Linked DNA regions of Homo sapiens: region 2 is linked to region 1. Evidence: fine-mapped expression QTL. A gene starts in region 1. The other region holds a variant in brackets. All regions are shown on one strand. Distances are from middle to middle.

What was found. PIP is the estimated chance that this variant, and not a neighbour inherited with it, causes the effect.
Region 2: its variant is fine-mapped to the expression of ZNF623 in lung (TOPMed, PIP above 0.99).

Annotation. Positions count from the first base shown.
Region 1 is chr8:143,634,289-143,637,192 of GRCh38, reverse strand. ZNF623 (zinc finger protein 623) reads right to left here and starts at 1,174. Exons shown (of 2, transcript NM_001261843.2): 1 at 1,048-1,174.
Region 2 is chr8:143,667,573-143,670,476 of GRCh38, reverse strand. LOC105375799 (a long non-coding RNA gene) reads right to left here. Exons shown (of 4, transcript XR_928737.3): 3 at 2,560-2,632; 4 at 1,990-2,258. Among named protein-coding and RNA genes, the nearest start is that of ZNF707, 15 kb to the left of the region's middle. RefSeq lists enhancers at 430-930, 931-1,431. The variant T/C (reference allele first, on the strand shown) is at 1,059.

The DNA.
Region 1 (2,904 bases):
TCTGTTCCTAGTGCTCCCCACGATGCCCCGGAAGTTCAGGGAGGTAAGAAGCGTAAGGTCAGAGAACTGGAGCCAGCTGTCAACTGCCCCCGCCCCACCCAGGCCATTTGGCTTCTGCTACCGGCATGCTGCTCAGGGCTCTGCCCAAGGACAACGACGAGCCCCCTGTGTCCTCTCCTGGGTCATCTTCCATGACCCTGAGGCAGCGAAGACAAGCTCGGCAGCTCCCTGAGCTGCTTCACACCAACTACCTATGAGTCTGAGGCCAGCATCCAGGCGCTGCCCAGACCCTGAGAGTCCCTGGACCATGACGTAGCCTGTGTGTGAAGGGAGCAAGACAGCCTTGACAGAAGCACAGAGAACGCCACTGGGATTCTTAAAGACGCGAAGGGAAAAGGGTACCTTCAAGAAAAAGCAGGACAGCGTAGCCACACCACCTCTCCCCATCTGGGAATTCTCCAGGTCCAAGTCTTGTACTTAATTCTAATTCTGCTCATCATGTTTCCCTCCCCACCCCTATCCCCAACAGCACAGAAGATGCTGGCGCTGCATCTCCTCCAGCACCGAGAGGCCTCGAGGCCCCAGGGAGCGGAGGCAGGGTTCAGGCACAGCCGCGGGAACGCCCACACCCAGTCCTGCCACACCGTAAAACATGTCTGCGGCATCAACCTCACGCAGGCCTGGCGGACCTGAAGACTGCGACACGGACACTCAAGCCCGCGGCTCTCCGGCCTGGGCTCAGGGCGGGGGGAAGGAGAGGGAACCAGGGGTACCCACACGGCGCTCCTCAGGGACAAGACCCCAGGCTCGGGCCCGAGGCGGGCTCGCTGGAGAGACGCCGCAGCCTCGCGGGGGCGGCCGTGGCTGCGTCCGGGAGACTGACTAGCCAAGGCCCCGCTCCTGGACGCCCTAGCGGGGCGGGCAGCGGCCTGCGGACCCCGCCCGGCCCTCTCGGCGGACTGTGCCCTGGCAAGGCGGCCGGGCTCCGGAGCCAGCCGGGGCTGCGGCTAAGGCGTTGCCCGCCCCCGTCCGGAACGCGCCACTCACCCGGCGCGGGCGGGGAGAGGACGGCGCGAGCCCGACCCTGCAGCCGCTGACTGGACCCCGCCGGCGCGGGCCCCACAGATCAGCCGACAAAGCCTGCACCGCCGCCAGCCCGCCGCGACCGGAAGTCGCGAGAGGCCCCGCCTGGGAAACTTCCTGCGCCGTTCTAGGAGCGCCAGGGATCGGCTCCCCTCTCAGTGGTGCGGACTTCCGGGCCCGGGGACTAAGACCCCCGGAGGGGCCAGGGGTGTCCGGCAGGAGCGGCGTTGCTACGCGGTTGGGAGGGTTGCGGGCCGGGAAGCGCGGGCTCGGAAACTCGGGTCTGGAGCTCGCGGCGAGGTCCGACCGCAGCCCAAGACCAGCTTCTCAGGAGGCGAGGATCCAGGGGAAGTAAATACCGTGAGGGCCAAACTTCACCTCTCTGCGCCCCAGAGAAGTGGGGAAGCGGCGCGCTGTGGAGTTTTTTGGTTTTCGGGTTTTGGTTTTTTTAAGACAGGGTCTCGCTCTGTCGCCCAGGCTGCAGTGCAGTGGCGCGATCTCGGCTCACTGCAGCCCCGACCTCCCGGGCTCAGGTGGTCCTCCCATCTCGGCCTCCCAAAGTGCTGGGACCAGAGGCGCGCGCCACCGCGCCGGCTCATTGATTCTTGGTAGACATTACTCATTGCTAGAATGAGTCACAGTCCGAAATAATCGAAATAATTACATTCCCCTGCCCCCCCCCCCCACCAAAAAAACATTATATTCGTATTTTGGGTTTTCTTTTTCCATTTTTCTGCTAGCACTGAGGAAACTTGTTTACCTAAATTGTTAGATAGGATTGGGAGGAATTTTGTTTTAGCAATGACGCTCAATTTATTTTTATTTTTATTTTTTGAGATGGACTCTCGCTCTGTCACCAGGCTGGAGTGCTGGAATGCAGTGGCGTGATCTCTGCTCACTGCAACCTATGGCTCCCTGATTCAAGCGATTCTCCTGCCTCGGCCTCTGGAGTAGCTGGGATTACAGGCATGCGCCACCACGCACAGCTAATTTTTGTATTTTTAGTAGAGACAGAGTTTCACCTTGTTGGCCAGGATGGTCTTGATCTCCTGACCTCGTGATCCACCCGCCTTGGCCTCCCAAAGTGCTGGGATTACAGGCGTGAACCGCTGTTCCCAGCCGACGCTCAATTTCTTTAGCTCTTTCTGACTTATATGCAAAAAACATAACAGCAGTTTATCACCAAGTGTACTTAATGACCTGTCAGTTGACCACTTGAATAGGTCCTTTTTAAATTTTGACAGAAGCAAACAAAGAATTAGAAGTAACCTAAAGTGCAAAACTACATGAAGTCTTTCCCAGCCAATAAATTCACCTACTTTCTTAAAATCAACTGCAGAGTTTTGAATTGTCCCTTTGATGAGGAGGACAGCCCAGGTACCAAGGCCAGGTACCAGGGTGAATAAAGGAAGAGAAGCAACGTGGGAGAAGGAGCTGTGGCCAAGGGGGACACGCTAGGCGCGTGCCCTCATCCAAGGACCTTCTACAGGAATTCCAGGGCAGAATCCATGTGGAACTCCTGCTGTGATTCTCCAGGGGCTCCCCGGCTCTTGGAAAGGCTTCTGTGTTCCAGGGGTGTGTGTGAAAGCCCTACATTGAGCGACCCCACCTCTCATCCAGGCCCGGAGACCTTGGCTGCTGCAACCCTATTGCCAGCTTACCATGGGACCCAGCTCTTAAGGCGAGAAGGGCTTGAGGCCTCTTCCCCACAGGGCTTACAGACCTTTCAGCCTCCCTGTCCGCAGGCCCAAAGAGCTTGAGAACACCGCCTGAGCAGGTTGTCACAGATCAAAATCTGCCTTGTACACCTGACGCCTGCCA
Region 2 (2,904 bases), 33 kb before region 1:
ACGGGAGGCAGAGGTTGCAGTAAGCAAAGATTGTACCACTGCATTCCAGCCTGGGAGGTTGCAGTCAGCTGAGATCACACCACTGCACTCCAGCCTTGGCAACAGAGTGAGACTCCATCTAAAAAAAAAAAAACACAAACAAACGAAAAAAAGAAAAACAATTAGCCAGGTATAGCATTCCTGTAGTCCTAGCTCTTCAGGAGTGATATGGTTTGGGTCTGTGTCCCCACCCAAATCCCATGTCAACTGTCATCCTCAATGCTGGAGGTGGGGTCTGGTGGGAGGTGATTGGATCATGTGGGCGGATTTCCCACTTGGTGCCCTTCTGGTGATAGTGAGTTCTCTTGAGATCTGGTCTGTTAAAAGTATGTGGCACCCCAGCCTCGGCATCGTCTGGGAAGTGAGGGGCACCTCTGCCCGGGTACCCCCACTGTCTGGGAAGTGAGGAGCGTCTCTGCCCGGGTCCCCCGACTGTCTAGGAAGTGAGGAGCGCCTTTGCCCGGCTGCTGTGCAACCCTCCAAATGTGAAGTGATAGCCTTGTGTGTAATCTTTCTACCTGCCCCAAGTTTGCATTTTCAACATTAAAGTTTACTTTTTAACTAAAAGTTTTAAATTGGAGAATTAAAAAAAAAAAAGTATGTGGCACCTCCCCACTCCTCTCCTCCTCCTGCTCTGGCCATGGAAAACGTGCCCACTTCCTGGGATTACAGGTGTGAGCCACCACACCTGGCAGGAAGTTTTGAAGTAGACTCGACATAATTGGATTTACATTTGTTAGATACAGTGAGTTCCTCTTCAAAGGTTCCACTTTACAGCAAACAACCTTCCAGCCACTCCCAATCTATAACCCAATCTGTAACCCACATCTGTTCCCAATCTGCAGCCCAATCTGTAAAACCCACATCTGTTCCCAATCTGCAGCCCAACCTGTAAAACCCACATCTGTTCCCAATCTGCAGCCCAACCTGTAAAACCCACATCTGTTCCCAATCTGCAGCCCAACCTGTAAAACCCACATCTGTTCCTTATTTGGCCACTGTAGCCGCCCCTGATCCAT[T/C]TGAAGTAGCCAATGGGGATCGGCTTAGATGGTGTGGTGCGACTCCAGCCAATGGGGACTGGACACAGTAGCAGGGCGTGACTGCTTTAGGGATAAACACCCCTGCCCTGCTTTGTTCGGTGTGCTCTCCCAGTGGCCAGAAGAGAGAGCGGCACTCTTCTGCAGAAGTAAATTTGCCTTGCTGAGAAGGCAAATTTGTGAGCACTCAAAAAAAAGCCAGTGGAAGTTTTTTTTTGTTTGTATTTTGAGATGGAGTTTTGTTCTTGTTGCCCAGGCTGGAGTGCAGTAACACAGTCTTGGCCCACTGCAACCTCTGCCTCCCAGGTTCAAGCGATTCTCCTGCCTCAGCCTCCTGAGTAGCTGGGATTACAGGTGTCTACCACCAGCCCTGGCTAATTTTTTGTGTGTGTTTTTAGTATTTGAGTGCTCATTTTCTTTTTTTTTTTTTCTTTCTTTTCTTTTTTTTTTTTTTCAGACAGAGTCTTGCTCTGTTGCCCAGGCTGGAGTGCAGTGGTGCAATCTCAGGTCACTGCAAGCTCCGCCTCCTGGGTTCACGCCATTCTCCTGCCTCAGCCTCCCGAGTAACTGGGACTACAGGTGCCCGCCATCTTGCCCGGCTAATTTTTTGTATTTTTTTTAGTAGAGACGGGGTCTCACCATATTTGCCAGGATGCTCTAGATCTCCTGACCTCGTGATCTGCCCACCTTGGTCTCCCAAAGTGCTGGGATTACAGGTGTGAGCCACCGCGCCCAGCCTTGAGTGCTCATTTTCTTTGCGACTCCAAGCTCTTATTTCCAACACATTTGAGAGGAAGCTGTCCTTGTGCAGTCTCAGCTGTGTGATTGTGTGGGCCAGCTGTGCAACATGTCAAGTTACTTTACCTTTCTGCATCAGGGCGCAATCAATCAGCAGACAGAAACTGCACAGTCATTTGGGCAAGGAACGTTTAATATAAAGGATTATTTACTATAATGGAATTATCTGTACAGGGCTAAAGATAATGCAAAAGAATACTCTGGGCTGACAGAGAGTTCCCAAGGAAGGAGAAAATGTGAAAGATGGCCTCCTCCCCAAGGCTGGGGCTCAAATCTTGGAAAAGGTGTGGTTGCAGAGATGCTGTTTGGTGCAGTATGGATGATGGAGAGGTTCTCTGGTTTTCCCGTAGCCAGAGCTGGTCCACAGTCAATGGGCAATCACTCCTGCAGGTGTAGAGGGGTTGAAGGTGGCAGGTAGGGAGCCTGGCCAGGACTGGCAAGCAGGAAACACCTCTCTGGGGCAGGCTGAGGCTGGATGCTGACCAGTGGAGCATCTGCAAGACTCACGGGGATCCACCCATGGCATTGCAAGTGAAGTTGGCTGGGGGTGAGCAACACTGAGTGTGCTGGCAGCCACATGGCAGGAACAAGAAGAAAACAGAAGAAAGTGCAGAACAGGAAGAGAAGCACTTTCCTCCTGCAGGGTCCCTCCAGTGCCCTCTACTTACAAAGCTTAACGTCATACCTGCTTTAAAGGAGAAACAATTTAGGGCCCAGCTCCATTTTCACCAAGCAGGCGATGAAGTATGTATTTGAAGCTGAAAGACAGTAAATGGAGAATTGGCAGTTTCAAGCCTCAGTTGGGCCCTTGGTTTTCTCAGTACTCACTCTGTGCCTCCCAACAACTAATCTTCTTTCTGATTCTCCAAGTAGCTCTTTCAACACTCCGTAAAAATCCTATCCACCATCTTTCTTCCCACTTGGAAGAAAACCTTGCCTTTTTTTTTTTTTTGACAGGGTCTCACTCTGTCATTCAGGCTGGAGAGCAGTGGTGCGATCTTGGCTCACTGCAACCTCATCCTCCTGGGCT